3 linked regions of the Homo sapiens genome follow. The protein of the gene in region 3 purifies or fractionates together with the protein of the main gene of each other region. This does not show direct contact. Each region holds a gene or a part of one and is shown on either strand. Other genes may lie near its edges. The genes, in order: TRPC4AP, MAGEB3 and MYH7B.

The links.
Region 1: the proteins of MYH7B (region 3) and TRPC4AP purify together in Homo sapiens (affinity purification with mass spectrometry, with the first as the bait; one large-scale study listed by BioGRID). This does not show direct contact.
Region 2: the proteins of MYH7B (region 3) and MAGEB3 purify together in Homo sapiens (co-immunoprecipitation; one large-scale study listed by IntAct). This does not show direct contact.

What each region holds. Positions count from the first base shown.
Region 1 is NC_000020.11:35,082,770-35,086,426, forward strand, and holds part of TRPC4AP (short transient receptor potential channel 4-associated protein), read right to left. Parts: intron 1-3,657. UniProt on the Homo sapiens protein: Substrate-recognition component of a DCX (DDB1-CUL4-X-box) E3 ubiquitin-protein ligase complex required for cell cycle control.
Region 2 is NC_000023.11:30,233,530-30,235,855, reverse strand, and holds part of MAGEB3 (melanoma-associated antigen B3), read right to left. Parts: intron 1-2,326.
Region 3 is NC_000020.11:34,983,301-34,986,957, reverse strand, and holds part of MYH7B (myosin-7B), read right to left. Parts: intron 3,640-3,657; exon of another isoform or gene 2,423-3,639; intron 2,267-2,422; coding exon 2,243-2,266; intron 2,105-2,242; coding exon 2,012-2,104; intron 1,893-2,011; coding exon 1,829-1,892; intron 859-1,828; coding exon 760-858; intron 73-759; coding exon 1-72.

The sequences.
Region 1 (3,657 bases), 99 kb from region 3:
AATTATTTGATAACATAAAGGAGAATAATGATATGAATACCTCAATTGATACAGAAAAAGCATTTGATAAAATTTAACATCCATTCATGATAAACTCAAATAAAAAAATGAATTTCTAGTAACAGGTATCCACAGAAAACCCACTGCAAACATCATACTTAATGGCAAAATGTTTAAGGTTTTTTCCCTCTTAGATCAGGAACATGCTACTTCTATTCATCATACTGGAGGTCTCAGGCAGCAGAGTAAGGCAAGATATATAGAAGACATAAGATTGGTAAGGGTAAGATAAAAGATTCATTTGCAGATGATATAATATTCACAGATGACTGTACAGTATACAATCCAAAAGAACCTAAATGTAAATTATCAACTATTACAGCAATATACATGAATAATATAAAAATCTATCTTATTTTTATATTACAGCTACAATTTTTAAATGCAGTTTTAAAAACACTACTTACAATACCACTTTTAAAAACGCTAAGGAATAAATCTAACAAAGTTATGCAAGACGGCTACATAGAAAACTGTAACACACTCTTGGCTGGGCACAGTGGTTCACACTTGTAATCCCAGCACTTTGGGAGGCTAAGGTGGGCAGATCACCTGAGATCAAGAGTTTGAGTCTAGCCTGACCAACATGGTGAAACCCCATCTCTACTAAAAATACCAAAAAAAAAAAAATTAGCTGGGCGTGATGGTGGGCGCCTGTAATCCCAGCTACTAGGGGAGGCTGAGGCAGGAGAATCGCTTGAACCTGGGAGGCGGAGGTTGCAGAAAGCTGAGATGGTGCCACTGCACTACAATCTGGGAGACAGAGCGAGACTCCATCTCAAAAAAAAAAAAAATTACAGGAAAATAACTTCCAATTTATACTTCTATACCCAGTCAAACTAAATATATGTGTCAGAATAAGACATTTTCTGATCTGCAAGCTTTAAAAAAAAAAAAAAAGTTACCTCCCATGTACTCTTTCTTGGGAGGCTACCAGAGAGTGTGCCCCAGGAAAAAGGAAGACAATTGAGGAAACAAGGTCTAAAACATGAGAAAAGAAAGAAAAATGCTCTGGATTTGGTGAAGAGAAGTCCCAAGAACTCAGCTGTATAGCAGACCTAGTAAGCAGCTAAACTAAACTGCTAAACTGCTAAACTGCAGTAGGGGAATGAAGGGCTTCAAATGATTTCTTTAAAAAAAAAAAAAAGTTTTAGAATTTAGGAACAAATTATAAGTATACAGAAAGCAGGCCGGGCGCGGTGGCTCACACCTGTAATCCCAGCACTTTGGGAGGCCGAGGTGGGTGGATTACCTGAGGTCAGGAGTTCGAGACCAGCCTGGCCAACATAGTGAAACCCCATCTCTACTAAAAATACAAAAAAATTAGCCAGACTTGGTGGCGGGCACCTGTAATCCCAGCTACTCGGGGGGCATAGGTTGCAGGGAGCCGAGATTGCGCCATTCCACTCCAGCCGGGCAACAGTGCGAGACTCCGTCCCAAAAAAAAAAAAGGTATACACAAGGCAAAACAATTTAAAAGGATGCATTATACCTGACTTCACCACCATGCGATACACCAATGTAGCAAAATTTCACTTGTACCCCATTAATACAAATTTAAAAACAGTAAAATAAATTAAAGGATGCACTATTATGCTAATGAAAGTCAAAAGGGTATATGTATATATGTGTGTATATATGTATATATGTGTATATATGTATATATCTATATATGTATATACGTATATATGTGTATATATGTATATATGTATATGTATATATGTTTATATGCATATATGTGTATATGTATATATGTTTATATGCATATATGTGTATATGTATATATGTTTATATGCATATATGTGTATATGTATGTATGTTTATATGCATATATGTGTATATGTATATATGTTTATATGCATATATGTGTATATGTATATATGTTTATATGCATATATGTGTATATGTATATATGTTTATATGCATATATATGTATATGTATATATATACAGGGTATATGTATATTTATCCTTCAATTTAAAAAATGGAAGAGGACTGTTTTTAACACTACAAAAAAATTATATAAAACAAATATAATTGTACAATATATGGCCCTGCTGTAAATAATAATGCTAACATCATAATGTAAATACTTAACAACAGCCAAAGCTGTGATATAACTACATTGGTAGACTAGTGGAGACGAGTAAGAAGGAATCGAATGTGTGAATTAAATCCTAGTCTTTCAAGAGCGAAGAAAATAGATAGTATCTAAAAGTGAAAAGAAACAGCTTTATAACCATGTTATTTAGAAATACTGGCTCTCCTGTTTCCTGGATCCTTCTCTTGCAAAAGAAATAGCTAAGTATGGACACTGAACAGCATTAGGAGTATGGAACTTAGAGGTGCAAAGCAGGCAGGGCACTGCTGTTTTTTTGTTACAAGCTCCATGATACGCAGAGATCTAATCACAGTCCAAATATTTGACTTCACAAGCAATTTCTTTACTATTTATACATTGTCTTACAAGGCATGTACTCTCATTTAAAAATAATAATTTGGGGCTGGGCACAGCGGCTTACACTCATATCCTAGCACTTGGGAGGCCAAGGTAGGCCCATTGCTTGATCCCAGGAGTTTAAGACCAGCCTGGGCAACATGGCAGAACCTTATCTCTACAAAAAAATACAAAAATGAGCTGCGTATGGTGGCATGCGCCTATAGTCCCAGATACTCGGGAGGCTGAGGTGGGAGGATTGCTTGAGCCCAGGAGGCGGAGGTTTCAGTAGTTTTTTTTCACCACTACACTCCAGCCTGGGCAACAGAGCAAGACCCTGTCTAAAAAAAAAAAAAAAAATCATTAGAATTTTGTTTTCCTTGTGAACAGCTCAGCACTGTGACAAAAGTGCCACCATTCAGTCATCTTCCCAGTTGAATTACTGGCAGGTATCACATGGGTTTTCTCTTGAAGTACTTGTGGTTTAACAGTTTACAGCAGTGATAATCTCTTACATCATACCCTCTAAACTGTCAACCTGTTTAGCAAATATGACATTTCTAGACATTTACAGTTTCCACTGATTTTATTGTTTTTAAAAATAACTAAAGGCTAAATTCCATGAAGATAACTGTGCATCTTATTTGTTTCTTTAATCCTAAATGTAAGACATCTAATGCCTCAAAATACCACACTAAATGCAAGGGTCTCGCGCAATCTCACTGCAACCTCCGTCTCCTGGGCTCAAGTGATCCTCCCACCTCAGCCCTGCCCCCTTCCCCCTCCCAGCCCCCCACACCACCACCACTGCCACCAAGTAGCTGGGATTACAGGCACGCACCACCACGCCCGGATAATTTTTTGTATTTTTAGTAAAGATGGAGTTTCACCCATCTTGCCCAGGTTGGTCTTGAACTCCTGAGCTTAAAGAATCCGTCTAGCTCGGCCTCCCAAAGTGCTAGAATTACAGGTGTGAGCCACCGCACCCAGCCTAAATAGATATCTTAAAGGATAATAAAGATAAAATACCTTGTTGGGTTATTCTGACAATACATGTTAACCACTGAATACTTTTGTGTCCTTTAATGGGGTATGATTCAGTAAAATTAGGAGCAAATTTAAGGGCTTGTGAATACGAAAACTTCCCATTGAAATGAATG
Region 2 (2,326 bases), on a different chromosome or scaffold from region 3:
GAGAGAGAAAGAGAGGGTATGAGTGCCTTCAGCAGAGAGGTACCACTTTGGATTTAAAAGAAGGTCGCCTCTGCAGTTTTCTGTGAGAGCACTGCTCTGGAAACCCAGAGGGCTTCTGTTCTGATCAGTTTGTCCTCTGAGAACCCTGTGAAAGTAATTAAAGTGTGCCTTAGGCCACAGCCTGCCAGCCCTGTTCTGTGTATACTGGGACTGAGAGCAGCCGTGGCATGTCTAGTCCTTGTGGATCTCCTTTTACTCTGGGGTAGGAGGTTTCTCTCAGTTCACACTCAGGACCATCATAAAAACTGTCAGGGCTGGGTCTTCTCCCCTGTGCTGCACTAAATTTGACACCTCCAGCAAATGTCCTCATCTCCTTGGGACCACCTAAGAGGAGGTGAAGGAATGTCTCAGCCTTACCACCCCTGACAGGAGGAACTGGGTGCTAACAGCATTGTGGAGTCCTACTCTTTCCTGGGCTTATTGGAGTCCTGACACCTCATTCATAGTCCTCATCTTGTCTCTAGATAGGACCTAGGACAGCTGCCTCTGCTGCTCTGATGCCCCTCACTTTAGATAAAGGCTCTCAGCAACCTAATGCCATTAAAAGAAGGTGAGTTCACATACACCTGACCTCCATGCCCAGCCTCATCAGCGCTGCAAGTGGGGAGTGGGGGAATCTTTGTTGTCTCTTCTTTATGTGGGAGGAGTTGTATCACTAGTCTTCATTCAGGGTCCTCACTGTGACCCCTGTAAGGCTCTGGGTCTCCTCACTCTTCCCTCTGCAGAACTGGGGCATGTAATTAGTTCAACCTTTCTGGCACTCTCTAGGCAGTAAGGGGGGCTGACGTTATTCCAAGGCTTCCTGGAGCTGAGAGAAGAGGCACAATTTGTGGGACTCTACTTTTTAGAGAGAGTGTTCCCTTTAGTTTTCTCTCAGGTCTCTGACCTTGACTCTTAGTAGGATGTGGGACACTTCCCTCCATTAACCTAAGTCCTCCAGCCTCAGAACAAGACCCTAGACAGGGAAGTCAGGGACCCCTCACCTATGAATACCTTTGCCTGGAGGTTGCAAAATGAGTGCAAGGACATTGTTTGTGTTGACACCTCTATTGCAGAGAGATTGCTTCATTAGCACTCAGGGCCCTCACCTTGACTCCAGTTAGGACCCAAGTCTCTCTTCCACCTGCTGAACTGGGGCTACTTTCTTAGACCAAGGCCCTTCCCTCCCTGAGACTTTCCAGGTAGATATCTGTCAGACAGCTTTCAAGGTATTCCCAGGGAAGACTTCCGGGGCAGGATTTAGTGTGGCCCTCTTTGTTACAGGTTGGGGGATGGTGGTCCCTTTCATGCACATTCAGGGTCCTGACCTTGACTCCAGACAGTCCAAGGAATTCACCCTCTGCCGAAGAGATCCCGTGCCCCTCGCCTCCAGATCCTCCCCTTCAAAGCACTTCCAAGGAAGTGAGGAAGAGCCTTATCTGTTCACAGCTTCCTGGGGTCTGATGGCTGACAACACGGGTGGAACTCTATGAGACTTCACTGTTTTGGAGTTGCTGGTCCCTAGATTCTCATTCAGGGTCTTCACCTTGGTATCTTATCACAGCCTGAAATTTCTCCCTCTACTGACCTGAGTTCGCCAACCTCCAAACAAAACCCTCATCTCCCTGAACACTTCCCTCCCTGGATGGGGAAGTCAGGGCCTCCGCTTATGACTACACTTGTCTGGAGCCTTCTAAACTGGCTAGCAGCAGTGAGACCTTGTCTGAAAAAAAATAAAAATAAATAAAAAAGACAAGGACCACTGGTGCTAACCAGGAGGATGCTAACCAGTAGGGCTGCTGCTGCTTTCTGTTGACGCCCCTACTGGGAACAGATCCCATCCTTTAGCACTCGGAGACTTCACCTTGGCTCCAGTTAGGGTCCAGGTCCCCGCCAACTGAATAACTGGGGCTGCTCCCTTAGTGAAAGACCCTCCCTCTGGGTGCCTTTCCAGACAGAACTCAACCAGGACCTCCCAGGGTCAACCACAAGGGTGAGACGTGTGGGTCCCCTTTTGTAAGGGGCAGGGAGTTGTGAGGGTGAGACACGTCCCGCTCTGGGTCTCCGAGGGCTGACAGCAGGGGGTGACACGCTGGGACCCCACTGTTCTGGAGTCAGTGGTCCCTAGGTCCTTATTCAGGGTTCTCACCTTGTTACTAAGCGGAGCAGAGTAACACCTCTACTGAGCGAAGTCCGCCAACCTCCAAAATCCTCCCCTCCCATAGTCCCTAGAGGGGAAGTCTAGGCATGTTATCGGACCATGTCCTGGGGCTTCAAAGACCTGAAA
Region 3 (3,657 bases):
TGTTGTCCACGGTGATGACGCCCTGGCTGCAGAAGTGGTAGTCATAGGGGTTCATAGACAGAAGCAGCATGTCTGGGGACACAGGGCAGAGAAGGGAGGGTCAGGCAGTGCTTACCGGCTATTCTCCCCACAACAATTGCAGCATAGGGGGTCCTGCGGGGGCAAGCCCAGCAGGAGTCTAGGGCCCTCCCAGAGGACCTCATCTCCCAGTCTGGGGCCTAAGTTTCTCATCCTCACTCCTGCCAAGGCTGAGGGCACTGAGAGTGAAGGGCCCTGACCTGGCCTTCACTTTGACCCTGGCTTCTTTTTCTGGTTCTCTGAGGAATGAGCCACAGTCCTCACGTCTCACTCATCTTTTGACTGTTGCTCATGGCCCCCTCTGGCCCAGATCCCATGCTAGATGCTGGCGCACAGGGAAGACCAGACTCTGCCCTCAACGGGCTTGCCAGAGAGGAGAGCTGGGCCTAGACAGTCATCAGTCCGCCTTGGTGCTGGGTGGGACCTCTCTAGTCTCAGGACAGCAAGTGGGGTTTAGGGCTTAGGCTCCTGGAGGCAGCGATAACACGTTGGCAGGTTGCTGGAGCTAAGAGGACTGTTCCCTAGCAGGAAAGTAACCAAAAGTCCCAAGAAGGAAGAGAGGCCACAGACCCCAGGACAGGGAGGGAAAGACCACCAGGGCCTGGCCTGATGGGGGCCAGGAAGCGCCAGGCAGCCCCTCCAGGTTCTGACTCCCACCCCCTTCATCGTACTGCCCCTCACCCTGCAGCTCTGGCTTCCTCCCTGAGAGGATCTGGTAGTAGACATGGTAGCTGCGCTCACCAGGCAACTGGAAGATCACCCGCGACTTCTCCAGGAGATCTGGGGAGAAGGGACGCTGGCCTGCCATCTCCCACACCTCCCCAGAGTGGACATCCCAAGGGGGCGATGCGGAGGGAGAGAGGTGGGCAGGGAGTGTGCAGGGGGGCTGCATCTGCACCTGCCAGCTTGTGTGGGGAGGGTATCTCCCCTGTGCCTGCGTCATCACACGAGCCGTGTGTCTGTACCTGTGTGTCTGTGTCTCTGGCCAGATGGGTCAGTGTGTGTCCTTGCGTGTGTGTGGGGTGAGTGTGGTGTCTGCGTGTGCAGGTTTTTATCTGTTGGTGTGTCAGCGTGTGTGCGTGTGTGGCCGAGCCTCCGTGTGTGTCTGTGTGTGTCTGTGTAGGGGTCAGGGTGTGAATTACAGCCTATCCCTGTCCCCGTCACTGCCTGCCTGCGCTCATCCGTCAAGACCTAGCCATGCAGCCCAATGTGGGGAGTGGCCAACGTGGGGGCCCCTCTGTGTCCCTGGCCCCCTTGAGTGTGGCCTAGGCGCCTGGGGTCTATGCAGCTGGTGGTACTGGGGCACTTCCCAGCGGGGTGCCTGGAAGGATGGGGCACTCTACGTGTAGCTGTGCAGCTGGGGCAGGAGGGCCGTGGGCCAGGCCTGCCCTCTTGGTGGCCAGAGAGAAGACTGGGGACACGCTAGGGGTGCAGTCACAGGAGCCTGACTGGCCAAATGAGGATTTGGGTCTCCATCCTCAGGTGACAGGATCTAGAGAAAGCTTTCAAGCAGGAACAGGATATGACCAGCAAAACTATGGCCGCGTAGAGGAGAGGAAGCTGGAGACCAGGCAGAGGCTGGGGTGATGTTCTGGTGATAGGTGAGGTGGCCTGAGCTGGGCAGCAGCCAGGGGGTAGAGAGAAGTGCCCAGAGCAGGCAGGAGCCCAGAAGTCGTGATGACAGAGGCCGAGTTGGGGTGACCGGGCTCAGGCCTCCTTCCCCTGCACCGCCCGCAGGGGGTTGACTCACAGCTGTCAATATCCGCGGATGCCAGCTTCCCAGAGGGACCAAAGTGAATGCGGATGAACTTGCCCTGTGGGCAGAGGGGCAGCCCTCAGCCAAGGGGCACAGCCAGCACTGTCCCCACCTGTGCCCGACCTGCCGCTGGTGGCCTACGGCATCCCCGCCACCCCTCCCACCTCAGCCACTCACAAAGCGGGAGGAGTTATCATTCCTCAGGGTCTTGGCGTTGCCAAAGGCCTCCATGGCAGGGTTGGCCTCGATGATTTGATCCTCAAGGGTGCCCTGGGGCGGTGGGGGTGAGGGGGTCTGTCAGTTCTGGTGCCTACCCACCGGGAGGCCAGAGCCACCCGTGGCCCCTCTGTTGTGCAGAGGAAGGGGGTACCCCCAGGGCTGCCCCATTGACATTGGCCCCATACTCACCCCCGTCTTTGTTGCCAGAAATTGCTGGGGGAAGAAGACAGACAACATTAGAGGGCCAGGCCTCCGGTGGGGAAGGGCGGGGTGGGGCAGGGTATCAGCGGGAGGCAGCGGGCAGCAGGACAGGGGGGTGGAGTTAGTCACCGGAATGCATGGCCCCCACCCTCAGCCCCTCGGCCTGACCCTCCTGCAGCTGTTAGGAGGCAAAATGCTGGAAAGTGGGAGTGGCACAGCCCCAGCCAGAGTCTCCACCTGCAGCCTCCTCTGCCCCAGCCCGGCCTCTGGCCTCCCTTCATTTTCTAGTCTCCATGCAGTGGCCCTGCTCCAAGCCCCAGGGGCCTCCCGACTAAAATCTAGGGCCCTCCAGAGCCCAGCCCAAGTGCCCCCTCCTCTAGGAAGGCCTCCTGGCTGCTCCAAAGCTGGAATAGACCTCTTCCTGGTCTGAACCTTCCTGCCCTAACCTCCCACTATGACCTTACACACCTCTCCTTTGTAATGCAACTGGGTGTGTCTTCATTGTTTGTCTGCCTGTATACCTACCAGTGCGCACAAAGGCCCTGCCAGGTGCCCATTATTAGCCCTAATTTGCAAATGAGGAGACTTAGCTCTGGGCAGGGAGTGGATCTGCTCAAGGCCACACAGCAAGTCAGGAGCGGCAGGGCAGGTGCCCAGCATCCTGCCGCCTGGACGCCACAGCGGTCCTGTGTGTCACCCAGGGGGACTAAGTGAATTGAGCAGATCCTCCTTCTCCCCATCCTAGCCTCATCCTCACTTTCCCTTCCTTTTCCTTTCCTTCTCTTCCCTACTCCGGATGCTGGGAGCCAAGGAAGAAAGGGAGAGAAGGGAAGGAATGGATTCTGGAGGGAACAGATATACCACCACGGACTTTGTGGTCATTCATTCACCTCCAGGGAGCCCAAGAGTTAAAATACCCACAGGGACATTGGGCAGGGGAGGTGGAACCCCCCAATACACTCCCATCCAGTGCTTTTGTGCAGGGCTCTCTCTAGCCCGTTTGGCCAAATTTGGGGCCAAGGTAAGGGGAGCTGATCAATCTTTTAAGTTCCTGCAGCCATGGCTCCTGCGGGCAGCCTCTCCCACCCCTCCCTTGCCCGACCCTCTCCCCTGGGCTCCACTGTCCCAGCTCCTTTCTGCCCAGGTGCTCCTCTGCCCTTCCAGCTGTGTCCCTGCCAGCTCTGGCCTCTCCCTGACATCTCTTCCTGTCACTTGACCCACCCAACTTTCTGTTACGTCCCCAGAGACCTTTTTAGGGATTTGGAAGACAGGGCAGGAAAGGGAAGGAGGAAAAAGGACCAAAAAGTCAACAGCAAAAACAAAACAAAACAAAACTGAAATGAAAATCAAAAATCAAGACAATCAAATGGGTAAAAAGGAAAAGGCAAAAAAAAAAAAAAAAA